Homo sapiens: one gene and its partners. The protein of the gene in region 3 purifies or fractionates together with the protein of the main gene of each other region. This does not show direct contact. Each region holds a gene or a part of one and is shown on either strand. Other genes may lie near its edges. The genes, in order: MACO1, ST7, PCDHAC2 and LSR.

Region 1 (7,868 bases), on a different chromosome or scaffold from region 3:
AAAATCAGTGTCAATCTCACTGGGTTGTTGTGAAGATTCAACGAGGCAGTGCATAAAGTGTCAGATGTGTAGAAAACACTCCATAAATGTTAGCAATTATGATTATCACACAAGCTTGGCAAGTTTACTGTAGAAACTTTGAAAATACAGATGCATAAAGCTAACATAAAATGTCCATTTCAGTCTCTCCAAAAACCAGCACTATGTTTTGAGTGTATATCCTTTCAGATGTTTTTCTATTCCTGTCGATTTAGGCCTTGTTTTTCTCCCTACAAAAATGGGATTACACAGCACATACTGTTTGGTAACTTGCTATTTTCATGAACTCTATATCATAAGCAGTTTCCAAGCCAGGAAAATCTTTCTACAACAATATAACATGGTGGTTAAAGAGCCCAGGCACTGAAAGCAGACTGCCTGGATTTGAATTCCCAACTCTGTTACTATGTGACCTTAGGCAAGTGCCTTAACTCCTCTGTGCCACAGTGTCCTCATCTGTAATATGGTGCTAGTAATCTCTATCTCATAGGATTGTTGTGAGGATTAAAACAAAATGTATCTGATACTTGGAGTGGCGGCTGCCATAGTTAGTGCTGTGTATAATCATCCTCCATGCCACACTGACTTCCATGGTAAGGATATGTGATAAAGTGTTTGGTCAGTCCTCTCCCAAACTAGCCCTGTTCTAAACACTACAGTGAACATCTTCCATTAACATGGTTCTGGCCTGGTGTGGTGTCTCACGCCTGTAACCCCAGCACTTTGGGAGGCCAAGGCAGGTGGATCACCTAAGGTCAGGAGTTTGAGACCAGCCTGGCTAACATGGCAAAACCCCATTTCTACTAAAAACACAAAAATTATCCAGGCGTGGTGGCGTGTGCCTATAGTCTCAGCTACTCTGGAGGCTGAGGCAGGAGAATCACTTGAACCCAGGAGGCAGAGATTGCAGTGAGCTGAGAATGCACCACTGCACTCCAGCCTGGGTGACAGAGCAAGACTCCATCTCAAAAAAAAAAAAAATAGGTTTCTCTAGGGGATACAGGTACATGTGTTAAGAGGTGGCCATCGAAATGTTTGGACTTTTCTGTGATTCTTACAGGGCAGGAACAAAGCTCAAGACAGCTAGTGGGCTTGCGGGGATTGAACGGGCTGACAGAGGTGGGAATACCATTTCCTTATATGTGAAACAGGGTTTAATGATCTGGCCTCTAGAGCTGTTCTGGGCTCAGCTGAAGCCCAAGTGCAAATCCCTTCATCAGAAAGTCCCAGAAGGAGGGACAAGCCTAAATTCCTCTGTAGGCCTTGGTCTTTTGAATGAGGGCAAATTACTTCCCTTCCTTGTTTCACTCATTTGTAAAATGGCCACTGCTGATCTCTGCTTCCTGACTGGTGAAGGTGTGGGGAGCTGGGGCCTTCTGGCAGGAGGCCCACTTCTGTGCCCTTAGAATCCCAAAGGGCCATTTCAGGACTCAGAGGAAAAAGGCTGGCACTTGGCTGGAGCCAAAAGGGCTTGTGCTAGAGTGGGTCATGGAAAAAAGAGCTGGGTCTGGAGGAGTGAAAGAGGAAGAGTATGGAGATGGGCAGTCCTGCTCTGGCCTCTCCTTGGGTCTTGGCAAGAAGGCCATTCCCATCATCTCACCCCAACTCTACCCATCAATAGCTATATACAGGCACCACAGCTTGCTCAGCTTGTGCTTTGAGCTAGATTGCTCTACCACACCTATTATGTGACCTTGTTTCCTCTCAGCCTCAGTTTTCTCATTTGTAAAATGGAGCTAGCACAATCTGCTTCTAAACATAGAACTAGAAGCACCACCTCCAGAGGAGATCTTGGCACAGGGTGGGCTGGTGACTCAACCAAGGACACTAGTGAGTTGCCATGTGAATTGGGATTGGAACTTAGACCTCCAGACCTTCAGATTGTTTGTCAGCCATCACCCTCAGATTTTCTCTGCCCTTTCTCTGCTTCCACATAGTCCTAGAGCTCAACAGTAACTCTCAGCCACAACCTCCATTGCTCCCAGCCACTCCGCACTTTTGCCACAGCATGAGATGCCCTGTCAGGGTCTATTTAATAGTAGGCTAGACAGTGAGCCTCAGAAAGCTGGCATGTGTCCCCAGTGCCTCTCATCTTTTCTTTGGCTTACTCATCTAACCATCCCACTTAGTCTCTGGCCCAGGTAATCTGGAACACTGCAGTCATGGGGATGAGGGATATTCAAGTCTGGGGTTCCCATGGAGGCTGGAGCCCGGACTTTACCATGTACCTGTTCCTGCGCTCCCCAACGCCTTTAAGCTTCCATTTTGATTTGGTTCCCACCTGTATCTTCCTCAGTGAACCAATCTGCCTTGGCAGCTGAAGGCTTTTTTCTACTGCTCCACACATAGCATTCTGTTCATATCCTTTCTCAATGATGGGCAGGCCTTGGTGAAACTTTGAGCTCACAGAGTTTGTTTTCTTGGCCACCCGGTGCCACTTGATCAATATACTGAAGTAGAATTAAGGCATGAGAAACAAGTATACTGCTAACAGCAGTTACTTTCTGTTACCTACTGCTTGTCTGGCTCTGAAGGCTCATTGTCCTCCAAGCCTTAAAACAAACCTGAGTGGAAACAGACTGTGAGAGATTTAGTAACTTGTCCAAGCTAGTAAGTGGCCAAGCTAGAATTTCAGCCCTACTCTGAAAAAGCAAGTACTTTGGCCATTTTTCTTAACTGTATCTCTGCAGGGTATAGATTTGATCTCCAAGAAGCTTTTTGCCTAAGTGGATGGATAAGCCTTGCCTAAGAAACCACACACCAGAAGCGGCACTGACAGAGATACTGTGTTGGGGCAGAGGCAGGAAGGGGGAAAGATCGGTTGCAGTGGATTTAAGGATAGTGAGAAAAACGGTTTGCTTGCCTGGCGTAGCCTGGAAAAGGAGGGTGGGTCCCCACTGTGACCAGCTCTGGATGCCCTTCGAAACAGAATGGGTTTTCTCTTCCAGGCACTGGGAGATCTTTGAAGGTTTGTGAGCAGAAGAAAGTAACACAGAGTCATGATTGAGGACAACGCATTTGGTGTAAAGTTTCTCCCTGGGGTAGATGTTGATTAAGGGAGGGGTGATTACAGGCCAGAGAGAGTTCTGTGAAACCCAGGACAAAACAAAATGGCATCTACTTCCTGGGAAGTTTTTTTTTTTTTTTTTTTTTTGAGACAAAGTCTCGCTCTCCTGCCTCAGCCTCTCGAGTAGCTGGGACTACAGGTGCCCGCCACCATGCCCAGCTAATTTTTTGTATTTTTAGTAGAGATGGGGTTTCACCATGTTATCCAGGATGGTCTCCGATCTCCTGACCTCGTGATCTACCCGCCTCGGCCTCCCAAAGTGCTGGGATTACAGGCGTGAGCCACCGCGCCCAGCCCTTCCTGGGAAGTTTTAAAAATGCACTGGAAGACTAACTGCCCCATTGTCGTTGAGGGATTACACTGATAAAGCTACTGGATAGGACATTCTGCAATATTTTCAGAAATATTTATAAAAGCTGCATTAAAACATGTAAAAATGCTTATGTTAAAAACAGTATGACTACTATTCTAGTATGACTACTATTCTAGTATGACCACTATTCTATTTAATAGCAATAGTAACATTATCATCCATAGGGGAAAATTGGAAAACAAGCAAATACAATAAAATGTCAACTGTATTTGTGTTAATGTGATGAGACTCATTGGTGTTTTTTCCTTTTCGGCCACTTTCCTACATTTTCCCCAGTTTTCTCTAATGATAAACATTCTTTTTATTTCTCTTAAAAAAAAACACCATGCGGACTTTTCTAAGTGTTACTTTGCCATACGTACGTGGCAGGGGAGTTATAAGGAGTAAATGAGCAAATACACGCAAATTACCCAGCACGGTGCCTGGCATAAAATCGGCGCTCAATGAGTACGAAGCGTGAAGGGTCGCCGGCCCCGCGTCCCCGCCTTGCAGGAGCCCGGACCCGCCGAGCAGGCTCCCGGTCCGGCCCGGCCCGGCCCGGAGGCCGATGCTTCGCGGTAGTGCCCTCGCGGGTCCTGCGGACTCGGCGCCCGCGGGGCCCACAGCGCTGCCCAGCCTGTGGACGTGGAGCCCGGGCCGCACCGCCGCACACGCCCCGGGCATCTCTGCGCTACGTCGCGCGCCCCCACGGCTCCGCCCCGTGGCGTAACCCGGGGCGGGGCCGCCACCTCCGATTGGCCGGCGCGCTGTCACCACGTCGCGGGAAGCTGGCAGGGTGTGTGTCTGTGTGCGTGTGGGGTTTGCTTTGTCATTCGTACCCCCGGTGCGCGCTGACGCGGTCGGCCTGGCCGAGCTCTCCAGCATCCGCAGAAGGGTCCCCGGCGCTGTTCCTGGGATGCTCCCTTACATAATGACGCGACTGGCTGAAGCGCACGTCAGCGCAGACACCGCACATGCCGCAAACCCGGGCCTTCCGATTTCATACATTGCTAGACGAGAGCCTACAATGCCATGCCGTACGGTATGCTCTAGTAGGGATTACAATACAATGAAACGCAACCCAATAATAATAAAGCATACCTTCGCAACAAGGCGTAATATAGGATGTTATATTTATAGGGCCTATTTATAAGCCTCTATTTAAATCTTTTCTGATAGGCTCAGCCGGGGACCCAGACACTATAATGATTGGCGCATTCTTCCGTCCTTCAAAGGGGCGGGTTCTAGAGTCAGTTTTGCCTCAGCGGGCCCTGGGATTGGCCGACAGCGGTTTACCGGTGGCTTCTATTGGCCTCCCGGGCCGTCCGTCGGAGCCGAGGAGGCGGGGCAGGCGGCTGGCTGGTGCTGGGCGGGCGGGCCCCGGAATTGTCATTTCTTTGTTTCCGAAGGCGGAGGAGGCTCCGAGCCCCCCCTCCCCGTGCTACCCCCTCCCCCCGGGTGCTGGCTCCATGTCTGTGTGACCGGCCTCAGGGGTAGAGTCCAGGCCCGACGCGGGGCGGGCCAGCGGCGGCGGCAGCTGAGGTGAGAGACGGCGGCGGCGGCGCGGGCACCCGGCCCCCCAGCGGGAGGATGAAGCGGCGGAACGCCGACTGCAGTAAGCTCCGCCGCCCCCTAAAGCGGAACCGGATCACCGAGGGCATTTACGGCAGGTGAGCGGCTGCACCCCCACTCCGCGGGCGCGGGCCCTGCGGTCCCCCTCCAGCTCCGAGGGGCCTGGCCCCGTTATGTAACCCCGAGTAGGCCGCACGCCCGCGCCGGGGGCTCTCCTAAGGAGCGCTGGCCCCGGAGCCGCTGGCCCGCCCGCCGGGGTCCGCCCCGGGTGCGCGGGGCGTGGCGAGGGTCGGCCCGGCCGGGCGGGCAGGGCGCGGCGGGCGCTGGCTGAGGGAGCCGCCGCGCCGCCGTTGGAAGCGCCGGGCCCGCCGGGGGGAGGGGCGGAGAGCCCCCAACCAGCCCGGCGTTCCTCAGCATCCCGGCCATGCCGCTGGGCCGGGAGGGCCGCTTCCGGGACCTCTGACTGGCCGCCGCTGGCCCCCGAGCCCCCCGGTGGCCTGGGGGCTTGCCGGCCGGAGCCAGGAGGCGCGTGGACCACAGCGCGGGGGGGTGGGGGAGGCTGACAAAGTTGAGAGCCCACTGTGGCCCCTCGTTCCCCCAAGCTGCCAGCATACTGGCCTGGGGCCATGCTGTCACTTCTTTCACCTTCTGCTTCCCATATGGGATCTCAAACTTGGCACCCAGGGCTGAAGCTGATACCCCCAAATCATGCCCTGTGGCCCTGCTCCAGATTCGGAAGGGTCTGATGACCAGTTTTTCAGCAAATATTGTTTTGACAATTCCAAGCAGATAGCTTGCTTTGAACGTTTTTAAAAAGGGATTTTCTCCAAACTCTTTTTTTTTTTTTTCATCCGCAAGAAAAGCAGTGTCCCTTTAAATAGAAATTGAATTCAGTCCACCGGTAGAGAAAGACAACAGGTTCATGGGGCAACTTACTATCATAGCTTCCCCAAGTCGATTTGTGTACGACTGTTATTTTCTGGTTCTTCTCAGAATGTTACTTGTAAATGGTATTTGCCTTGATACAGATTTCGGTGGAGAAGTAATTAGTTTACAAAGAAGAATTCTCAGCATGTGGATGTAGGCTTAATTGAGTCCTCATGGTGTTTTACAATTAGCTTCTCTAGCTGTGGGATTTCAAGAAATATGTGAGGTAGCTGATGACACCCAAGTTGTCTTAACATAACTGTACACCTTGCACATGCTCTTGTTTACAGATGTGGAATGATTGCTTTCCACAAGCAGCTGACTGATGTAAACACTGGGGATTTTCTTCAAGTTTAAAAGCATTAAGGAATCAAAGTAAAAATTTCTTGGGTATATTCTTATAAAATGAGCCATAGAGCATAGGAGTAATTCATTCATTCATCAGTTATATATACTATGTGCCAGGAACATTTCTAATCAGTGAAGATAGAGCAGTGAGTAAAACAGACTCTAATCTATGCTGGATGAATCGAACTTGACCATTTTAACTTGAACTGTGAAAGCAAACAATTTTTTCTACACATAGATGGAGGAAAGGTCTCTTCAATTCACGTTACATACACTATACATTCTTGAATTAAAGAAAGTTTTTCCCCTTTGGCTATTGAAAAATATTTGACCAACTTAACATTAATGGTAACATAAAAATAGGAAAGGGATATTAAACCGAGTTGGTAGACTTAGCACAACTGTGGCATTTGAATAGCTGCTATTTACAGTAACATAAGATGATGTACCTCCATTTATAGCAAGAAGATTGAGAGTCCCATATTGTTTACGTGTTTTCTGCTGTATTTCCATTTCTCTGTACTTGAACAAATAGACCCAGTTTACAACCTGCGCCATAATAGCTACTCAGTGTGAATCGATGTGAAGAAGTGAATTCATCGTTTAATGAAGATTTATCATCTTACTGATGGCTTTTGAAATTTGAATTTTCTTACCCTAAAGGTTAATTGTAAATACTCTTTGCAAGTTATTCAGAGGTTCATCTGCAAAATTTTAAAAACCGACAGTGCATTAGCCTTAAATCTTCTTATGCTTCTCTGTTTTGCATTCTTTAAGTTAAATGTTAATAAAAGACCTAAATGTATTTCTAACTGTCTTTCCTGGTTGGAGTATCATATATCAAATGAGCGTTTCAACTCACTTATCTGTTTCTTGGTTTATATTATGGAGTATTGGACTGAAGAACAAGATTTTTTTTTTTTTGCCCAATTCTGTTTTTAAAGAGATTTAGAAAAATTTCCTGTTATTTCTAAAGCAAACAGGATGAGTGGACTGGTTATAAACTAGAATGCTTGAGGATTCATGAATATCAAATTTCTGGTGATCATCAAATTTAAGTCTATGCTAAGTTGTTTTTCACACCATCTATTGCCCATTTTGTTTCTCAACAACATGTGGCCAATTTTGGATTCATTAAACAGAGAGCCTTGTTTTTTTTCTGGGGCCGTGTTGACAGTTTTGATAACCACTGTCTACTGTTTCATAGCCAAACCTTTCATGGACTTACTATTTTCATGTTCTCAGTCTGTACAACTTTCTGAGCCTTGGCATAGGAAGGAGGCAGCTGTGGTGAAAAGCGCACTGGACTGCAGGAATCAGGAGACCCAGGATCAGACTCAAAATCCCAGCTCTGCTGCTTTAGGCAGACAGGGCATCCACAGCTTTGAGCCCCAGTTCTCCCACCTTCAAATGAGTTTTGAGGACTAAAGGAGATATGTACAGTTTGTGAAATGCTTTATAAATCCTAGTGTAGTTTACAGATACTATTTACCATGTTGTTGCTATCACAGTTTAACGTGTGGTTAATTTTTTAAGGAGGCAGGAAATACTGTAAGATTTGGT
Region 2 (7,265 bases), on a different chromosome or scaffold from region 3:
AGGCAGGTTGTGTGGAGCAGGTCCAAAAGTGTGAAAGAGAATAGCATGTTTGCCAAAATGCTGGTGCTATTAAGGTAGGCAGAAGTGCCCTTGCAGAAGGCCTGAATACCATCTAGATTCCATCCTTTAGTTAGACACTGGGATAAAAGTAGGAGTGCAGTAGGGGTGGGGCCTTAAATAATTTTATGCAAGGAACGAGTTATCGGATTTGTGCTTTAAAAGGTAACTGGTAGAGAAGTGTGGAAAGTGGATGGAAGGAGGCAGTGGTGGTGCTTGCCGTGGTGCAAATAGAGGCAGGGAGCCCACTGCCTTGTTCTCTATGAATGATGATCAGGCTATCACCAAAGGCTGAGAGAAGTGGCGGCCTGAGTCTTGATGTACAGTGGAATATAGAGAGGAAAGGAGGTACATGATGCTCAGATTTCTGAATTAGGGAACTGGAAGGATGGTGCCCATTCCTTGATGGAACTCTAAAAGGAACAGATGAGGGTGAAGAGGTAATGCATTCCATTCTGCATGTGATGAGCTTGGTGATTGTGTGCCATTCCACTGGGTGATTATCAAGAGGTAGTTAGGCATATCTGGGGTGTCATTATTTCATTAACGGTCCCACTCAAGAGCCCCCCCCTTATCCGTGCTCTGCCTGTTTTTTTTTGTGTGTGTGTGTGAGGCAGAATCTCACTGCTACACCCAGGCTGGAGTGCAATGGTGCAATATCGGCTCACTGCAACCTCCACCTCCTAGGTTCAAGCAGTTCTCCTACCCCAGCCTCCCGAGTAGCTGGGACTACAGGTGCGTGCCACCATGCCCGGCTGATTTTTGTATTTTTAGTAGAGACAGGGTTTCACCATATTGGCCAGGCTGGTCTCAAACTCCTGACCTCAAGTGATCTGCCTGCCTCAGCCTCCCAAGGAGTGCTGGGATTACAGGCGTGAGTCACTGCGCCAGGCCTGCCCTGCCTGTCTTATCAGTCACCAAGGCCTGTCACTTCTGCCTCCCCTCCCTTCCTTCCTCCCTTCCTTCTCTCCTTCCTTCACTCCTTCCTTCCCTTTATTTTTCTCTCTCTGCCTCTTTCTTCCCTTCTTCCCCTTCTCCCCGCCTCCCTCCCTCCTTCCCTTCCCCCTCTCCCTCTTTCTTTCTTTCTTCCTTCCTTTTCTCTTTCTTCTTTCTTTCTCTCCCTTTCTTTCTTTCTTTCCCCTTCCTTTCTCTCCCCTTCCCCTTTTTCTCTTCCTCCTTCTTTCCTTTCTTTTTCTTCTTTCTCTCTCTCCTTCCTTCTTTCTTCTTTCTTCCTTTCTTTTCTTTCTCTATCTTTCCTTTCTCTCGCTCCCCTTCCCTTCCCCTTTTCCTTCCTTCCTTCCTTCCTTCCTTCCTTCCTTCCTTCCTTCCTCCCTCCTCCCTCCTCCCTCCCTCCCTTCCTTCCTCTCTCTTTCTCTCTTTCTTTCGACAAGGTCTCACCCTGGAGTGACTGGCACAATAACAGCTCACTAAAGCCTCAAACTCTCAGGCTCCAGTGATCCTCCAACCTCAGCCTCCTGAGTAGCTGGTAGTACAGGCACACACCACCACACCCAGCTAATTTTTAAAATCTTTTTGTACAGACAAGGTCTCCTTGTGTTGCCTGTGCTGTTCTCAAACTCCTAGACTCAAGTGATTCTCCCACCTCGGCCTCCCAAAGTTTTGGGATTACAGGCGTGAGCCATCTACTTCCTTAATATTTCTTAAATCTCCACTTAAATAAATCTCTGAGTTGGTCATTTGGATTGGTGTGTGCAATGCCCCATAACTATGAACACCTTAGCGTTTCTAGTAGGCCCTTCAAAATGACTCAGGCCTGTATCTTTAGCTTTGTCTGTATCCACACCACTCTGCAGAGGCTGCACTCCAGCTATACTGAAGCAGCCACAGTTTGCAAGAGATTATGCTTACTCACTTCTGTTTTGAAGTGTTTTGAAGCACAAAGGCATGTGTACAGTCCCCACCACATGCCAGGATGCACACCAGGAGAGGCAATGATATAGGGCTGACTTCCCAGGAGCGCCTAGTAGAAAATTAGAAGATTGTGACTTAGCGGAGTCATATTCATGTCCATTCATTGAAGTTCATTGACAGCAAAAAGCCAGGCCTCCGGATGTTCATTTAAATTAAGTAGTCAATATCCTAATTCAGTGACTCGCAGAGAATCTGGTGGGTTATTTAATCATCACATAAAATAGGTGGTTCATGTACTCATGTTGAGGCAGGAGACTAGGTTCTGGAGGCAGGGAAACTAAGGACTTCCTTGAACTACATTGAAAGGAAAACCCTAACTTTCCACGCCTAAGTAACAAAAGGACCAGAGGCTACCTTTGACCTTTTCTGCCTAGTAGATGGGAAATTGGCTGTCTGTAACCAATCAGACTGACTGCGGGTCCAATCTTCATTTGCAACTTTGTAACTTCACTCCAGCCTCTGAATGGTTGTTGTCCACAACTAATCAGACTGTGGGCGAGTCTTCGTTTGCATAGAAGCATAACTTCATTAAGTACATCCCAGCCTCTGATTGGTTGTTTTTTGCAACCAATCAGATGTTTGCACAGGAGTGTTACCTTTGTATCTTCATTTCAGCCTCTGGTTGGCTGCTTTCTGCAACCAGTCAGACTGATTGCGGGCTACCACTTCATTTACGTGAGATGAGCATGAGTTGCCAAAGGGAAACTTCTTGGGGGTATTTGGACCCAAGAAGATTCTGTATTCGGCCTTTGAGCCGCTGCTCCGCCCGCTCCCACAATGTAGAGTGTACTTTCGTTTTCAATAAATCCCTGCTTTCGTTCTTTTGTCGCTTCTCTGGGTGTTTTGTCCAATTCTTTGTTCAAAACGCCAAGAACCTGGACAACCTGCAGTCACGATCCTTTACTGGTGACAATATTGTTTTATTTTACTGAGATTCCATGTATCAGTGTTAGACACAAAAATCATTTGGTCATGTGCTGCCATAAATAACTATAAAGAAAGTCTATGTGTGCCAATTTCACTTATTCTGGCCTGGATCTCACTGTAGTAGATCAAATGTGAGGAAGAAACAGTAGCCGAGAGAGGCTGGAATTAGTAAAAATTTAAGAGTAGTTCCATCCATTATGTATGCCGTAATAGGCCCTATATGTGAAAAGTTAAAGGAGCTTATTTAATTATGAAGGAAACTATTATACAAGTAAGCAAAACAATTTATAATAAAATATTCTTTATGCTCAGAATTTTAAAAATAGATGTAGACTGGAAAACCTGCAATTTCCTCATTACCATCTAATACATAGAAAGTCAAATCACTTACGGACAGAAACAGACTTGAAAATTTCAGCTGAGAAAACATTTTAGAATAAAAGAAACATTTTATTCAGCACAGTCAAAACAAAACAAAAACAACAAAACAATGTTTAAAATGGACTTTCTGTTAGAGGTGGCCGTTTCACAGTCAAAATTATCCCAGAGAATTGTTTATATTAAAAACAGGCTGAGAATAGTTTGACCTCTGATCACCAAAAAACCTGGAGGATAAACATTCATCTGTCAAGATTTCTCTGGAAAATCCCTGCGCTGCTTCAAAGAGACAGAACAAAGGTAAATAGCATCTGCCACCCAAATCTTGCTGAATAGAGTGATTTATCTTCAGGCCTACTAGCCGGCGACAGGAGCGCACCTCCTCCCTTCTCCTAGCTGTCCCGGGTTTATTCATTCCCTGAGCCTGAATCCTGATAAGGGAGCAGAGTAGGGTTTAAGACCTCGGACCCCAGAATACACCACTGCAATTGAATTTTGGTTCCACCTTAAGGTAAACTACGCAGCTGCTGTGAGCCTCAGTTTCCCTACCTATAGAAAGAGGATCGTAGTGGGGAATTGTTGCAGGGGTTAAATGAGATTGTACGGATCGTGGAGCAGCGCCTGGCGTGTGGTAAACGCTCAACTTATGCGGGTTGTAACTGCCTGAGGCGTTTCCTTCGGCGCGCCACTTGGCCTTCTCTTTCTAAATATTAGCATAATAAATATAAATGGACCCAGAACGCGAGGGGGCAGGGGCCACGTGATCGCTCCACGAAAGCCACTTGTAGGGACCTTTAGAGAGTTAGCAATAAGGCTGGAGAAGGAAAAGCCGGCGCGCCCGCGGCCCGCGCGATTTCCCGCCGAGCCCGCGTCCCCGGCGGCGGGCGGGCTCCGGGGGCGCCCGGGCCGCGGCGGCGGCGGCGGCGCGAGCTGCGCCTCCGGGCCGGTGAATCATCCCGGCAGACACCAAGAGCCGCGGCAGCAGAGAGGAGCGCTGAAACATGGCTGAAGCGGCCACGGGCTTTCTGGAGCAGCTCAAGTCCTGCATAGTTTGGTCTTGGACGTATCTGTGGACCGTGTGGTTCTTCATCGTGCTATTCCTGGTCTACATCCTGCGGGTGCCTTTGAAAATCAACGACAACTTGAGCACAGGTAAGGCCTGGGAGCCGGGCCCGCGGCGCCCACCCCTCCCCCGCCCCGGAAAGTTAGTGCAACTCGCGCGGGGCCGCGGCCAGGCGCGCGCTCGGGGACGCGCCGGGGCCCGCGCACCGGAGGCCCGCGGCTACCCGCCAGCAACGCGGCGGCTTAGGCGGCGGGGCCGGGCAGCTGGGCGCGCGGGGGCGGCCGGTGGCCTTCACGGCCCCGCGGAGGAAGAGCTGCGCCGCGCACAGCCCGCAAGGCGGGCCGGGCCGGGCCGGCAGCCGCCCTGCTGCGTCGCTGGTGGTCGGGAGACGGAGAAGAACGGGTGTCGCGGGCGAAGGAGTTCCCAGGACACCCCCTCGGGTGTCTGCGCCGGAACTCCGAGGGTTCCCCGGAGTTAGACCGAGTCCTTCCTCACGCCCTCCCGGCTGTGGGTGCCAAGCGGCCGAAGTGTGGTCGGGGAGGCGCCCTCCCGCCCGGCCGCGGAGGCCCGAGGGCGGCTGCCGGAGGGTGCTCGGCGGCGAAGCCCCCTGACCCGGCCGGGCTGTCCGGGCGGCGCCCTCCGTGGCCCGGAGTTGCGTCTTGCCGGGCGTGGGGCTGTCTCTCTGGTTGGGTAGTGGGGAGAGGGGTTCCCGAAGGCACTCTTGGGAGTGTATGGATGACGTGTCAGGTCACCAAATGGATTGTCGAAGGGACCGGAGGGAAGAGGGGAGAGCTGGAATTTCTGAGGGTTTCGGTTGCAGTTTTCAGTGATCTTTGCTCGTCTCCCTTCCCTGTAAAGCTACATATGCTCAGCAAGTGCCGCGTGCCTCCCATCCTTGGTCGGTGGTAAATGCAGGAGGTAATTAACAGGATCTTCACAAACTTGGAGCCAGCCCACTGAGTCGTTAAAAAAACACCCGCAAAGAAAACACACGAGCCTTAACACTCCAGAGAGTTCCGAAACACAAAGTAAATTTCGAGCTAAGGGTTACAGTCCTTTAAATCTGGAAATTTCAAGGTAGAGTGTTTTTGTTTTTGTTTTAAATTTTAATTTCACAGTACTGGGAAATTCTTACAGTCCTGAAGATATATACATATGTACACATATATATCTTCCCTTGTTAATCTCCATACTCTGGGAGTGCAAGTCTGGAAATGCATTTTCCTCAGGTGTTTAGCTGCATTAAAACGCTTTTTAAAACGCTTGAGATAATGTACTCATTTTGTTAGGAAACTTGTACCTTTCAGATACTAACTTAAGTATTTTGATTACTAACTTGAACTCATGTTCATATTTACATTTGTTTTGTAGTATCCCTCGGGATCGTGTCCCTGGGAGGCGGATAGGATTCAGCACTCTAGAATTGTCTCACCATTTGAATAGGTGCTGCTCAGCCCTTTTGAGTCTGTCATCGGAAAGACCATGGCTTTCTCGCTTTTCATCTTTTTGGATGGCTGCTTGTCGCAATATTGTCTTCTTCGCTTTAGACAAGTATGTCTCCAGGATACCTTCTGGTCTCAAAGTTCTATACCTTTAAGAAGTTGTTTGAATATATGTTTTAATGGAATTACGTATTTGTTGGTAACAGTGTTAGTCTGTTTTGTGCTGCTGTAACAGAATACCACAGATTGGGTAATTTTTAAAGAACACATTTTATTTCTTGTAGTTCAGGAGTCAGGGAAGTCTTGAGATCAAGGGACTGGCATGTGGGGAGGTCCTTCTTGCTGTCATCCCTTGGTGGAAGGTGGAAGGGTAAGAGAACATGAGAAAACAAGAGGGGGCCCACTTTCACTTTTATAACAAACCTACTCCCTCAATAACAAAATTAATTCATTCTTGAAGGCAGAGCCTTCATGACCTAATTACCACTCACAGGTCCCACCTTTCAACACTTTTGCACTTGGGATTTTCAAACACACTAGTTTTTAAAATATTAATGTTTCTCCTTATTACACACTTAAAATTTTATTTCATGATATACATTTGTATATCACATTTTCATCAGGTTAAATAATTACCCATGTATATATGTGTAAGTGTCACATCCAGTGCTCTGTGCAGATCAGGCAAGAAGCAAAATATCTACTGGGAAAATGTGTACTTCTTAAGGAAGGGCATTGTTAGGTCTTCTAGCAATTTAAATCTAGCATTTCTCAGAGATGCCTTTGTTAATTTGTGTAGGGGCAGTTCTAAGAGATAGCGAAAATATGAAGATGAACGTGCCATCCGGGCTGTACCTTGCTAGACACATGATAGAAGACCTGATGATGCTGGACTTTTCAGTTTGGTTTCATGCTCATTTCAGTCATAAAGAAAGATAAAAGGGGAAGCACACAGAGAGCACTCACCTCTCTGCTGTTTTTATGAGAGGGTAGCAGGATCTGGGGTGGGAGGAGGACTTTGGCATTAATTTTGAGACATGAAATTATAGCCACAAACCACCCTAGAACAGTTTAGGTTTTTCAAAAAACAGTTGCAGACATTAGAGGCCTATTTTCTTCCCTTTTAAGTAACAGTGAGAAGTTATAGTAGGAAAACTGCCAAAAGGTTGTTGTCAACTTAATTCCCTCCTTTCCTTGCCAATTCCCCTCCCCTTTGGGAAAAAGTTTCTGTACTGAAGTTATTGGCAAGGAAGGCCCAGGGAGAAAGAAGTCATTAGCCAGCACCCCTGAGAGGGGAGGCAGGAGCTAGCCTGGTCTAACTTGTCCTTGCAGGGAGGTCTAAAAGAGTTCTAACGGGACTAACTTTGCTGTTCTTCAGCCCTGTGGTGCTTACTCTTCCTGTGATGAAGGCAAGTGTGTTCCTGGAGAGGTTACTGAATCTGGAGCTGCTTTTAGGGAGTTGCAGA
Region 3 (7,022 bases):
AGTATCCACAATTTGATCATAATCTGCTATTTCCTCTCTAGAAAAATAGCACTAAAGAATTGTTTTATTTTTCATTTTCAGAGGCATGAAGCCTTGTCCATAAAATTGTTTGAGAAGTGAGGATTAGTCTTAATATTTAATGCTAAAACACAGATTTGTAGAGAAACAGGACAGGCCTTGGAATAGGGATTATGTTTTAGGGAGTAATGTTATGAGACTCAAGGAGAAATGGCCTCTGCTGTATCATCTACAGGGAAATTTTTCTTTTGAAATCCTATATGAGTGATGTTTCTTAAAAAGCTCTGAGGCCTCTAGGGGCTATCATAGTCACCACTATCTGCTGTCTCTGTTTATACTCTGGACTGTCTACAGTGGAAATTATCTAGTTAATATTTCTGGTACTTGCACTGAACCTATGTGATAGGATCCTCTGGAAATGCATGTCACAAGTGATAAAGCTGTAGTATTTAGACATCATACTGAAGCTAAAGTTTGCTTTGGCTGTATGATGTGGCAACTCTTCTGTAGAGGGCTGTCAGAGGGAGTGGATGATGGTGAGGCAGAGAGATTAAGTACCAATTTGTCTGGTTGGTCCAGGGAGGTATTAGAATGAGTGGATTAGGGGTGTGGGGGGATGGTGAAGACCAAGAGAAGCTGGGATTAGAAGGAAGAGAAGGGAAAAAGAATTCTCCCAATAGTCACCTTTCTTGGCATACTCTGAATTCATTGTAAGAGGATTTCCCTGAATTTAGCTTAAATGCAGCCTGTAATCTTCTGATTTTCTGTTGACAGTTTCTATGGTTTTGATGAGATGTAAAGTAGCCTTTTCAAGTCCTTCATGTCTTTAAGTTAAATGACAGTACTTCCAAAGCATGCATTCATTTTCTGGATCTAAAATTTGATTTGCTATAGCTTCAAAAGGCTGGCTTGGAAAGTGGATGGCTTACCCTACAGTAAGGTGTAGAGGCAGGTGTTAGTATATGCACTAGTTTTGAGATTTAAGTAGGTATAAGGCCAGCTTGTTCATTATTATGAAGAATGTACATAAATTATTAGAAAGTAGATGAATATGTGTGTGTGTTTGTGTTGTGTGTTCGTCTCCATATGTATGCTTGAAATAACAGAGATATGCTTTGTGATACTTAAAACTTGGATTTCAAAAGCCAAAATTTTGTACCATAAATAGTGATGAATTGTTATCTTTCCAAATAACTACTTTGTAGAAAGGGCTTTTAGAGCTACTACACAATGTGTGAACAATATTTGTCTCTCCTCTATTTTTTGCAATATATTTTCATTGACATATTGCTGTACATACATATTGTATGTAATATCCATATTGTTACATTTCAAGTTCATGGTAATCTTGAGGAATGTAATGCACAGGCACAAAAGTTCCATTCCTGATTGAGAGTAGATTTTTCTCATGGACATTTCAGATAGATTTATTCATTTATCAGAAGTGCCTGGTGTTAGTCAATGCTGAGAAACCATGGGAGGCAGATTGTAGATTAAGAAAAATGGGGGAATAAATCAAAGAGTTTCCAGAAGTCTTTAGATCGTAGCATTTGAAAGCACGTAAAAGGGTTTAGCTTTAAATAAGGTTGCTGTAGACATTTGCTTAACAAATTCTTGTGAAGCCCTTTGGGATTGGGGTGGGCTACAGGTGGTGAAGAGGCATGAACAAGTCAGGCCAGGCTCAGCTTTGCCACCAGCTGTAAGCCGGAAGCTCAGAGGAAAGACACTGTTACCCTCCCTCTCCTGACTCAAAGCTTGGGGCAATTTGATACATAAACTATTTCTGTCTTACACTGACCTGTATATTAATATGTACTTTGGTACACAAACATTTAATCTAGGGAGAAAATTATTTCAGAAAGTGCTTGCTTTTGGGAGATTTTGCCAGGAGAGTGCATGACTTTAATAAAGGCAAATTTCTGCCAGGCACTTTTGGAAATCCAGTGAAGAACCCCAAGATCTACAGCTCCAGAAATTTTTGCAGTTATAGGGAGAGAGTGTCACATTGTTACAGTGTGGCAAGATAGGAGCAAAAGCCACTCAGTTCTGAAAGTCATCATTGCCAGATCAACCTGTTAAATTCCCATGTTGGGCTTTCTTTTTTTCCTACCTAGTTACTACAGATGGCAGGAGAGTCCTGGGGTACAATTAGTACCATGTGCCTACATTAAAAGTAGATGGGAATTAGAGAGGAAGAGTAAGGGAATTTGTACTCACTAACCACCCTGCTATATAGATATATGTATATCATACATATACACATACATATATCTCATATTACTGAATCTTGAATATTATTCAAGATTATTCAATATATTGAATATTATAATATTGAATACATATATGATTTCATTACCTGCAAGTCATGCGTTAAATATTTGTTAACATCTAGCATATGAGGAAATAAGCTCAGGGAGGTTAGGTAATCTACACAGCCACACTGCTAGTGTTATTTTAAGTTGTATCCATCTGACTCCAAAAACTTTTTTTCAATACTATGAGTAGACAGAAGTTCCAATGTTTATATTCCCTTTTATATGGGATATTCAGGCATTTAAGCTATCACTAATTCACCTAGTCGTATATATTAACTGCTTTTGGAAAAAGAGTAATTTCTGGCATAGAAGCAGGTAACAAATGGGAATATCAGTGAGTTACTACTATTTTTTTATTTTTATTTTTTTGAGACAGAGTCTTGGCCTGTCACCCAGGCTGGAGTATAGGTGTGAATATGGCTCACTGCAGCCTCGACCTTCTGGGCTCAAGCAATCCTCACACATCAGCCTCCTGAGTAGCTTGGACCATAGATGTGCGCCACCGTGTCTGACTAGTTTTTAGGTGTTTTTTTTTTTTGGAAGAGATGGGGGTCTCACTATGTTGCACATGCTGTTAGTATATTTGTATTTGTTTATTTGCTTCACTATTGGCAAACCCTGTTAAGATCTTTTATTTTTATTATTTCACTGATTTTTCTCTTGTTGCTTATTAAACATCAGCATTTAACCCCAGACTCTAATCTGTTGGTAGATTTTACCCCCAGTGAGCTTATTTCATAAATCACTTGTGCAGTGAGGATTCTGAAGTAACTATTTGGCAATAGGGCAGAATTTCTCTTTGGAAATTTCTGAACTTGATACTGAATGTTGTTGGCACTCCCTTCAGAGTCTCCATAAAAAGAAACCAAATTTTTTTTTTTTTTTTTTTTTTGAGATGGAGTCTCACTCTGTTGCCAGGCTGGAGTGCAGTGGCGTAATCCCGGCTCACTGCAACCTCCGCCTCCCAAGTTAAAGTGATTCTTCTGCCTCAGCCTCCTGAGTAGCTGAGATTACAGGCACGCGCCACCACGCCTGGCTAATTTTTGTATTTTTAGTAGAGATGGGGTTTCATCATGTTGTCCAGGATGGTCTCGATCTCTTGACCTTGTGATCCACCCGCCTTGGCCTCCCAAAGTGCTGGGATTACAGATGTGAGCCACCATGCCCGGCAAAGGAAACCAAATCTTAAGGTAGATTCTGTGCATTTGTGGTCGTGGTGTTGTGATTGTTAATGAGTCACTTTGAGTACTCTAGTAGATTTGTCCAACAGTGTCTCAGTGGGCCCAGCTGGCACAACATGTAGAAATTATGAAAGAGTAGCAGAGATGAATTAAGTTTGCATTCACTTTCACTTATTTTAAAGCAATTTGTAGTCACCAAACCTTCAGTTATTTCTGCCACTATGTGTGCATATTCACCCTAATTCCAGGTATAGTGACCTGAAAGAGTTAATTCTTCTTTCAGTGGCACCTACTTTTATTTCCCCCAGCACTGATTTTTCTATCTGATGACTCTATCCTGGAACAGAGTTTACACTCGTTGTAAAGTGACATAGTAGTGAATTTATAAAAATTGCACAATGGTCAGAATAGACAAAGAAATCATATCTATGAGCTTCCACTCCAGTTTTTCATCCTCTGATGGTCACTTTATAATGACTGGGGCTGTTTTAGTTTGCAAATTTCATATTGGTCACAGGACTCTTCTTCTGAGAAAAAGTTTATTTTCTTTGGTCTGATGATACAATAATTTATTTCAATTACCTCTTTCCTCAATTTTTCTACAGACTGCTGAGCCAGATGGAATTATGGCTGAGCTCTTCTCTGTTTCTGTATCTTGTACACATTCTGACTGAAGAAGAAATCTATTTATTGTAGCTTGAATGTCATTGGCCTACTGTTTCCTTCTGACCCAGGAGTGAGCCATCACATGGGCATCTGGTCTAACTCAGAACACTCTGCAGGGACACAGCCTGGCATATTATAGGTTGCCTATTGGCATGCTGTCTACTTGACAGAATAGCAAAGTCAGTTCTGGGTACTTGCTTGTTGCCTACCAATTTTTGCTCTCAATGAGAGGTCAGAATAATGTCAATTTGCAAATGTTTGAGGAAACATTCCTGTCACCAAACCCAGAGGTTTAGCTGAATATGATGGCATTTTACAGGTGTCTTTAAATGTGGCTTTTACAGAACTTCACCTGGATCAATGTTTTGTGCATGTGATAATACAACTATAAATTTAGCTTATTAATATGATAATATTTGGAGCAGTATAATCTATAACCATGACTTCAAAAATCAAAGGTTAAAAGTATTCTTTTGCAGTGTTTTAAATCTGCTAACCTGAAAACTATACAAGGGTTTTTCTTTCAAGAATTTTAACTTGACAAATGCAAAGGAATATCCAACATTGCAAAGGTAAAGAGAAATCTTAGTTCCTTGGCATATAAGCACCATCAGTTCCTTTCTGGCCTTCCAGGGTCAGAACTCTGGGCTCCAAGGAGGTACAACTGTGAGTGAGAGAGTAGCTGCTGTGCTAGCAGGCTATGCATCCAGAACTAAACAGACCTAGCACTTTCTGTTGTACTGGAACCCATTAGGTATGTTCTAAAGTTATGTTTATTTTACTTTCCTGGTTTGTAAATTAGCATTTTAAATGACTACATTCAGAGGAAAGTATTCCACCCAGAATTCTCAAATGTATTACCTTTGTGTTTTATTTTATTTTAGTTTTTTTGAGACGGAGTTTTGCTCTTGTTGCCCAGGCTGGAGTGCAATGGCATGATCTTGGCTCACTGCAACCTCTGCCTCCAGGGTTCAAGCGATTCTCCTGCCTCAACCTCCCGAGTAGCTGAGATTACAGGCATGCGCCACCATGCCTGGCTAATTTTGTATTTTTGGGTTTCACCATGTTGTTCAAGCTGCTCTCGAACTCCTGTCTCCACCTTGGCCTCCCAAAGTGCTGGGATTACAGGTATGAGCCACTGCGCCCAGCCCTCATTTTGATATACTAGAAGACCAATATGCAACATAATGATTATTTTAAATGTTATATTCCCTTTTGCCTTAATGCGGAACAGTCTATGTATCCCTTTTCTGATGATTTGTAACAAATTACCACAAGTAAGTTGTTTAAAACACCACCTATTTGTTATCTCACAGTCCTGTACCATGTGGCTGAGTTGTCCGCTCAGGTATTCTCAAGGCTGAAATGAACACAGCTGGGCTGTGTTGTCCTTTGCAGGCTCTTAGGAAGAATCTACTATCGAGCTCATTCAGATTGTTGGCAGAATCCAGTTGTTTGGGGACTGAGATCTCTGTTTTCCTACTTACTATTGGCCTGGGGTCACTCTCAGTTCCTAGAGAACTGAGGACTCAGGACTCTTGTCCCATGGTCTGCTCCATCTTCATGGCTGGCACTGGAGAATCTTCCCTCACATGGAATCCCTCTTATGCTTCAGATCTCTCTGATTTCTGTCTCTGACCTCTAGACCCAGATTTAAAGAGCTCATGTGATTATGTCAGTCCCATCCAGATGATCTCCCTTTCTTAAAGCCAACTGTGCTACATAGCATAATGTAATCATGGGAATAAGATCCATCACAATCACAGTCTTGGAGACTATTCAGGGTGTGCACACCAGGATATAGGGATCTTGGGGCCATCTTGGAATTCTGCCTATCAGTTTATATCAATGTTCATAAAATAGCACTATGCAAAATCTGCAGTGGATATATTCTTAATACAGTCCTATTAGGAAGGAAAAGGAGATATTATATGCAGTCTCATGTCCCAGAGGGCAATTTGTTGATGTCTTCCACATGGATTTCCATGGTACGAAGATAGCATATTATTTCATTGAGTAGTTGTGTGAGTTTATTAATAAAATAGGGTATTTTAAACTTATTTTACTTTAAATCTTAGAAGAGGTGATTCATCCTTCTGTAGCTCAAATATTCTATGTCATAAATCACAGATAATACCATTACAAGATAAATTAAATCTTTTTTATAATTTTAATAGGAACTGAAGTGTATTCTTATTCTTCAGTAATACTACATCACCCATATGGACTACCTAATTGATTTTTTCCACATATGGAGTTTTGTGACCATTATTCTACCAAAAGACTAACCTTTGAAGCAATAGGACATATTAGAGTTCTTCACCAATAGAAAGTAAGCATAGTCCTGGGAGGTACCATCTAAGTATTAAAGAACTAAATAATCACAGTTATTTCAACTGTGATTGAAATTGTGATAGTAATATATGTCTTACTGTGTCAGATATATCAGTAGTCAACTTTTCAACTTGAATTTTTCCAAGTTTAATCAAGTTCTGGATGAAACTCATGTACATTTTACTACTTTTAGTTTTGTATTGTTTTAAATCAATATCCTGGAAACTCAGAAGTAAAAAAGAGAAAGAAGAAAAATATATGTCATTTCATGTAAATTTATTTAAAACACAGACTTTTGGCAAGGCACAGTGGCTCAAGCCTGTAATCCCAGCACTTTGGGAGGCCGAGGAGGGTGGATTGCCTGAGGTCAGGTGTTCAAGACCAGCCTGGCCAACATGGTGAAACCCCATCTCTACTAAAAATTCAAAAATTAGCCAGGTACGGTGGCAGATGCCTGTAATCCCAGCTACTAGGGAGGCTGGGGAAGAAGAATTGCTTGAATCCGGGA
Region 4 (7,433 bases), on a different chromosome or scaffold from region 3:
ACATGATCATCTGAATTAATACAGAAAAGGTATTTGACAAAATTCAACACACCTTCATGATTAAAAAAAAAAAAACAGAAAACTAATCATACAGGGAAAATTCCTCAATGTGATAAAGGGTATTTATGAAAAACTCACAGCTATCATCATACTCAATGGTGAAAGATTGAAAGCTTTCCCCCTAAGATCAGGAGTAAGACAAAGATGGCCATTTTCACCATGGCTATTGAACACTGTATTGGAAGTTCCACCCAGAGCTATCAGACAGAAAAAGGAAATAAAAGTCATTCAGATTGGAAAGAAAGCAGTAAAACTATCTCTATTCACAGATGACACGATCTATGTATAGAAAATCCAAAAGAATTCACAAGACAGCTACTACAGTTAATAAACAAGTTGCAGGGTACCAGATCAACACACAAAAATCAGTCATGTTTCTATGCACCAGCACTGAACAATCCGAAGAGGAAATTGAGAAAACAATTTCATTTACAACAGCATCTAAAACAATTAAATACTTAGGAATAAATCTAACCAATGAGGTGAAAGACTTGTACACTGAAAATGACAAAAGATTGCTAAAATAAGGCCTGGCACGGTGGCTCAAGCCTGTAATCCCAGCACTTTGGAAGGCCGAGGCGGGCGGATCACGAGGTCAGGAGATCGAGACCATCCTGGCTAACACGATGAAACCCCATCTCTACTAAAACTACAAAAAATTAGCCGGGCGTGGTGGTGGGCGCCTGTAGTCCCAGCTACTCAGGAGGCTGAGGCAGGAGAATGGCGTGAACCTGGGAGGCGGAGCTTGCAGTGAGCTGAGATTGGGCCACTGCACTCCAGCCTGGGTGACAGAGCAAGACTCAGTCTCAAAAAAAAAAAAAAAAAAAAAAAAAGATTGATAAAATAAATTAACAAGTATCTAAATAAATGGCATAAATGGCAAGATGTGTTCATGGATAGAAAGACTTAACATTAAAAATGTCAATACTACCCAAAACAATCTACAGATTCAACACAATGCTGATCAAAATTCCAACGTCTTTTCCCAAAGAAATGGAAGCAGATCCTCAAATTCATATGGAGTTTTAAGGGGCCCCCAATAACCAAAACAATACTGAAAGAGAAGAATAAAGTTAGAGGACTCACACTTTCCATCTGTGAACTTACTACAGAGCTATAGTAATTAAAACATATGGTACTTGCATAAGGATAGGCGTATAGATCAATGAAATAGAATACAGAACCGAGAAACAAACCCTCACATATATGATTAATTGATTTTTGACAAGGAAGCCAAGACCACTTAATGGGAAAAGGACAGTGTTTTCAACAAATGGTAGAGGGAAAACTGAATATCCATATGCAAAAAAATGAAGTTGGACCCTTCTACCACATACTAAAATTAAAATGGCCCAGGCCGGGTGCAGTGGCTCACACCTATGTGAGCACTTTGGGAAGCCAAGGCAGGTAGATTACTTGAGGTCAGGAGTTCGAGACCAGCCTGGCCAACATGGTGAAACCCCATCTCTTCTAAAAATACAAAAATTAACCCAGTGTGGTGGCATGCACCTGTAATCCCAAATACTCGGGAGGCTGAGGCATGAGAATCGGTTGAACCCGGCAGGTGGAGGTTGCAGTAAGCGGAGATCACACCACTGCACTCCAACCTGGGCGACAAAGTGAGACTCAGTCTCAAAAAATAAAATGAAATAAAATAAAGTGGCTCAAAGACTCAATTTAAGAGTTAAAACTATAAAACTCTTAGAAGAAAATATTGTTGAAAATCTTCATCACATTGGACTTGGCAACAACTGCATAAATAGGATACCAAAAGTACAAGGAAGAAAAAATAGTAGGTAAATTGAACTTCATCAAATTAAGAACTTTTGTGCACCAAAGGACACTATCAAGAAAGTGAAAAAACCTGGAGAATGGAAGAAAATATTTGCAGATCATATATCTAACAAGGGATTAATATTCAAAATATATATAGAACTCCTACAACTTGACAACAAAAAAACAAACAACCCAATTCAAAAATGGGCAAAGTACTTGAATAGACACTTCTCCAAAGAAGATATACTAATGGACAATAAATTCGTGGAAATATGCTCAACATCGTTAGTCATTGGGGAAATGCAGATTACAACCACAATGAGATGCCACTTCACACTAACCAGGATGGCCATAATCAAGAAAATGGATAATAAGTTTTGGTGGGGATGTGGAGAAATTGGAATCCTCCGTGCATTGCTGGTGGGAATGTACAATAGTGCAGTCATTGGGGAAAACAGTTTGGCAGTTCCTCAAAAGGTTAAAAATAGAACTACCAAGTCACCCAGCAATTCCATTCTTAGGCATATATTCAAAAGAAATGAAAGCAGATATTTGTACACCAGTGTTCACAGCTGCACTATTTACAATAGTCAAAAGGTAGAAACAACCTAGGTCCATCCACAAATGAATGGATAAATAAAACGTAGCATATACATACAATGGTACACTAGTCCGCTGTAAAAAGAAATTTTGATCTTACTGCATGCTACATGGCTTCGACATACTACAACATGGATGGACCTTGAAAACATTATTCTTTGTGAAATAAACTAGACACAGGACAAATGTTAGACGATTCCACTTATATGAGGCACCTAGAATGGGCAATTTGGTAAGCAAAGTAGAATAGAAATTACTAGGGGCACAGGTAGCAGGGAATGGGGAGTTACTGTTTAATGGTCACAGAGTTTATGTTGGGGATGATGAAACAGTTTCGGGGATAAAGAGTGGTGATTGGTACACGACATTGTGAATATACTTAATGCCACTGAATTTTACACTTGAAGTGGTTAAAGCGATAAATATTATAGTTTGCATATTTTATCATAAAAATATTTTTTTAAACGATGAAGGGACGTGAACGGGTTGAAATTTTATAAAAAGTGGCCAGGGAAGGTGTCACTGCAATGGTGTCCTACAGGAGGAGGAAGATCATGTGGACATCTGCGGGAAGGGTGTTCTGGCAGAGGGAGTAGCACGGGCGATGGCTCTGAGGACTGTGAGAAGTATAGTTGGAAACAGCGAGGAGGCCAGGGTGTCCGAAGCTGAGTAAGCCAGAGAGAGTGGGAGGAGGTGAGATAAGAGGGGGAAGGTCAGTTTCTGCTGAGAGTGAGGAGGAGCCACAGGAGGGCTGTGAGCAGGTGGACGTGATCTGGCTTGAGTTTTAACAGGGCCAGTAGAACAAAGCACGCCTGGGTACCGAAACCAGCCACTGGCCAGTTGGCAACCTGGGGGAGTCTAACGCGAGGAAGCGCCCAGGGTTCCCCCAGGATGCGCTTTCCCTCGCCGCCACCTGGAGACAGCAGAGTCACGCCCAGCGCTGCGCAGGCTGATCGCCGCGCCGCGCCCCCGCCCTCGGTCGCAGGTGGCTCGTTCCGGGAATTCCTAAGCGGAAACCGGTCCCAAGCCCCGCGCCTTCGCTCGGCCCCTTTAAGAGCCAGAATTTCCGGAGGGCTGACCCGGGGGCTAGGGATGCCCAGGGGCCGAACCACAAGTTGGGAACGGGTGGGGGAGGTGGCGAAAACTTCCGAAGTGGAATTCCAACTTTTCCTGGCCCTGATTCCCCTTGGGCATCCCTGAGGGGGCAGAGCTTCCCTTCCGGGGACTTTAGAGGGTTCCTCAGGTCATCTAACTGGGAGACACAGGAGGCCCGAAGCGCCCCCCCTCCACCCGGTCCGGAGGAACCCCAGTGGAAGTGGAGAAGTCAGGCGCCACCAACAAGCCTCTCCCAGCCAGGACTTTGCTTAGACTCGCTCCTCCCGGCAGGGCGCACCTAGGCGGGTCCATCGCCAGCCGGGGAGAGGGGTTTGGGCAGGGAGGGAACAGGTGCGCGGCGGGACCCGCCCTATCTCAACAGGTGAATCGCTCCAAGTGGGTCTCGGTTGCATGGATCTCGGTGCGCTTGGTTTGGCCGGAGCAGATGGGGGCCGGAAGGGACCTGTGGTCCGCAGGCGCCCTCCCAGCGGGCCAGTCACTTGGTTCGGGCCCTGGGGGACGGAGCGCACCTGGGTCAGCCCACTTCCGGGGAGGGAGGCAGAGGAACCCCTCCCCGCCGCTCACCCCTAAGCCCAGCCCTCGGCTCCCACCCTTGTGTACCTGGGCCGAACCATTCACCGGAGCGCGCAGCGGGTGGAGTGTGGCTCGGAGGACCGCGGCGGGTCAAGCACCTTTCTCCCCCATATCTGAAAGCATGCCCTTTGTCCACGTCGTTTACGCTCATTAAAACTTCCAGAATGCAACAGGACGGACTTGGAGTAGGGACAAGGAACGGAAGTGGGAAGGGGAGGAGCGTGCACCCCTCCTGGCCTTGGTGCGCGCCGCGCCCCCTAAGGTACTTTGGAAGGGACGCGCGGGCCAGACGCGCCCAGACGGCCGCGATGGCGCTGTTGGCCGGCGGGCTCTCCAGAGGGCTGGGCTCCCACCCGGCCGCCGCAGGCCGGGACGCGGTCGTCTTCGTGTGGCTTCTGCTTAGCACCTGGTGCACAGGTACGGGGCACGGGGCCTCTGACGCTGCGGAACGCCGGAGGGAACTGTAGAGGGGGATGGATGGAGTTGGAGGCGGCGGGAAGCGGGAAGCGGGGGTCTCAGAGGCTGGGACCTTCCGATCCCCTGGGTCTTGGGCGATCTGTTGCGCGCGGGAGTGAGAGGAATTCCCCATTTGTGCCGGGGAGCGCTCCCCGCGCCCTTATCTGGAAGATAGCAGGAAGTGAAACTCCCTGGACGGTGAGACCCGGAGCGGCAGGGAGAATGGAACTCTTTGTGGGGAGGGAGTGGAAGACCGCCCGATCTCTGGGAAAAGAAAAGCCGGGATGGGACTTGGGCGCACCCGGGGATTTCTAAGTTTTGGAGTAACGGGGAGAGGGCACGGGAGGGCTGGATCAGACGCTTCCTAGAGGGACAGAGACGAAGGAACAATGCCTAGGCCTCGGGTGGGTGTGGGACTGGGGACTCCCCATCCCCCGCACCCCACCCACCTCCCGCGGGCTCCGGATTATACGTGCGTAAGAGTCTGGTGGGATGGATTTACGGACTTGAAACCGACTTCTGCTGGCAGGCTTTCACCTGGATGGGATATTTGGGTGGTGATGAGGTCTTTCCCGAGACACTTTTGGTTCAGTCATTTGAAATGACTTTAGAGTAGGGTGAGGTGGTGGGAGGCTGATGGAGATATTGTGGGGGCTTTAGTCCCTCCATGGCAAAGCAGTTCAGGCAAACAACTCCATGGTTTTCCCTCCAAATTCAAAAGGCCCCGGGTAACCTGGAATCCTTCGTAGTCGGTTTTGAAGTGGGGCCTTGGGCGCTGGGGGCATCAACATGGCCATCTGGGCTTGCCTGCCCAGGCCACACAGAGGCCCCTTGTTGTGGGTGAATGGCAAAGGGAAGAGGGGACTGGTGTGGTTCAGAGGCCACAGGCTGGGAAGAGGGATGGCGGGCGAGTCCAAGGAAACTGGCCGTGTCACCGTGCACCTGCCACTTCAGCCCCACGGGTCTATAAAATGGGCATGATTATCGTGGCTACCTCACTGGTCCTGGCAATTAAGGAACAATGTGTGCCAGGCACTCTGTAAACCACATACTTGCGAGTGTCAAGCTGGTGACAGGTGGCGTTCCTGTTGAAGCACCTCCCTGAGCTCACAGCAACCCTTGCTGTCTCTCCTCTTGCCCTCAGCTCCTGCCAGGGCCATCCAGGTGACCGTGTCCAACCCCTACCACGTGGTGATCCTCTTCCAGCCTGTGACCCTGCCCTGTACCTACCAGATGACCTCGACCCCCACGCAACCCATCGTCATCTGGAAGTACAAGTCTTTCTGCCGGGACCGCATCGCCGATGCCTTCTCCCCGGCCAGCGTCGACAACCAGCTCAATGCCCAGCTGGCAGCCGGGAACCCAGGCTACAACCCCTACGTTGAGTGCCAGGACAGCGTGCGCACCGTCAGGGTCGTGGCCACCAAGCAGGGCAACGCTGTGACCCTGGGAGATTACTACCAGGGCCGGAGGATTACCATCACCGGAAGTATGTTGGGCAGGGCAGGGGGATGAGGCTGGGCTTGCCCGGGTGGTGGGACTGGCGTCCTTGTGCGGGACCTGGAGTCCCCATCTGAAAGCTCTTGAGTGCCAGTGTCTGAAAGGACCATTGAAGGGAGCAATTCTTTTTTTTTTTTTTTTTGAAGATGGAGTCTTGCTCTGGACTCCAGGCTGGAGTGCAGTGGTGCGATCTCAGCTCACTGCAACCTCCACCTCCCAGGTTCAAGCAATTCTCTTGCCTCAGCCTCCCGAGTAGCTGGGACTCCAGGTGCGTGCCACCACGCCCAGTTAATTTTTGTATTTTTAGTAGAGATGGGGTTTCACCATGTTGGCCAGGCTGGTCTCAAACTCCTGACCTCAAATGATCTGCCCGCCTTGGCCTCGCAAAGTGCTGAGAGACACCATACCCAGCCTAAAGGGAGCGATTCTATTCTACTATTCTTCCTTCTGCTAATCCTTCCATTCTTTAATTTAATAACGAAGATTTTTTGAGTACCTGTCATATACCAGGTGCTGTTCTGGGCCCTGGGAATACAGCTGTTAACAAAATCATCAAACCACTTCCCTCGTGGAGCCCACATTGCAGTGAGAGAGACAAACACGACACACACTCTCAAGTCCTTGAAGATAAAGAAAACTGGGTAACGGAGAGAAGAGGCCAGGGTTTGTTCTATAATCATTAATAACACGAGCAGTAAGAAGTAAAATTTATCTAAGTAACAACTTATAAAGGGTCTACTGTGTGCTAAGCTCTCATCCAGGTTCCCAAGGATTAACTCAGACCACACAGTAATTGAATAGATTCTATCATTGTCATCTTACAGAGGCCCAGAGAGAGAAAGTGACTTGCCTAGTGTCATAGCTGGTAACGGGGCTGGGATTCTAACTCAGCCACTTTGGGTCTAGTGGCCAAGCTCCTAATCCCTTTGCTTGCCTAGGGTGGTCCGCAGAGGACTCACAGAGGAGATGGCAGGAGTGAACTGCAGGGGCAAGAGAGCTTAATGGAGAAAGCCTGTGACATGCCAGGAACTGCACACATATTCTCCCATTGAGTCCTCTCCTCTACCCTCCTGACAGCTGAGGCACAGAGAGGTTACCTTGTTCAAATGGGTGCATAGGAAGTCAAAGTCTGGAGCTGGGGTTTGAACCCAGGCAGCCCTGAGAACCTTGTTCTTTTTTTTTGAGACGGAGTCTCGCTCTGTCGCCCAGGCTGGAGTGCAGTGGCGGGATCTCGGCTCACTGCAAGCTCCGCCTCCCGGGTTCACGCCATTCTCCTGCCTCAGCCTCCCAAGTAGCTGGGACTACAGGCGCCCGCCACTACGCCCGGCTAATTTTTTGTATTTTTAGTAGAG

The links.
Region 1: the proteins of PCDHAC2 (region 3) and MACO1 purify together in Homo sapiens (co-immunoprecipitation; 3 studies listed by BioGRID and IntAct, with this or other methods). This does not show direct contact.
Region 2: the proteins of PCDHAC2 (region 3) and ST7 purify together in Homo sapiens (co-immunoprecipitation; 3 studies listed by BioGRID and IntAct, with this or other methods). This does not show direct contact.
Region 4: the proteins of PCDHAC2 (region 3) and LSR purify together in Homo sapiens (co-immunoprecipitation; 3 studies listed by BioGRID and IntAct, with this or other methods). This does not show direct contact.

The regions. Positions count from the first base shown.
Region 1 is NC_000001.11:25,426,051-25,433,918, forward strand, and holds the start of MACO1 (macoilin), read left to right. Parts: upstream 1-4,846; 5' UTR 4,847-5,048; coding exon 5,049-5,128; intron 5,129-7,868. Other genes in the region: RHCE (blood group Rh(CE) polypeptide), read right to left, coding at 3,890-4,142. UniProt on the Homo sapiens protein: Plays a role in the regulation of neuronal activity.
Region 2 is NC_000007.14:116,949,246-116,956,510, forward strand, and holds the start of ST7 (suppressor of tumorigenicity 7 protein), read left to right. Parts: upstream 1-4,255; 5' UTR 4,256-4,295; coding exon 4,296-4,446; exon of another isoform or gene 4,447-5,089; intron 5,090-5,215; exon of another isoform or gene 5,216-5,434; intron 5,435-5,728; exon of another isoform or gene 5,729-5,908; intron 5,909-7,177; exon of another isoform or gene 7,178-7,265. UniProt on the Homo sapiens protein: May act as a tumor suppressor.
Region 3 is NC_000005.10:140,969,458-140,976,479, forward strand, and holds part of PCDHAC2 (protocadherin alpha-C2 isoform 1 precursor), read left to right. Parts: exon of another isoform or gene 1-23; intron 24-7,022. UniProt on the Homo sapiens protein: Potential calcium-dependent cell-adhesion protein. May be involved in the establishment and maintenance of specific neuronal connections in the brain.
Region 4 is NC_000019.10:35,244,590-35,252,022, forward strand, and holds the start of LSR (lipolysis-stimulated lipoprotein receptor isoform 2 precursor), read left to right. Parts: upstream 1-4,412; 5' UTR 4,413-4,433; coding exon 4,434-4,542; intron 4,543-5,725; coding exon 5,726-6,070; intron 6,071-7,433. UniProt on the Homo sapiens protein: Probable role in the clearance of triglyceride-rich lipoprotein from blood. Binds chylomicrons, LDL and VLDL in presence of free fatty acids and allows their subsequent uptake in the cells.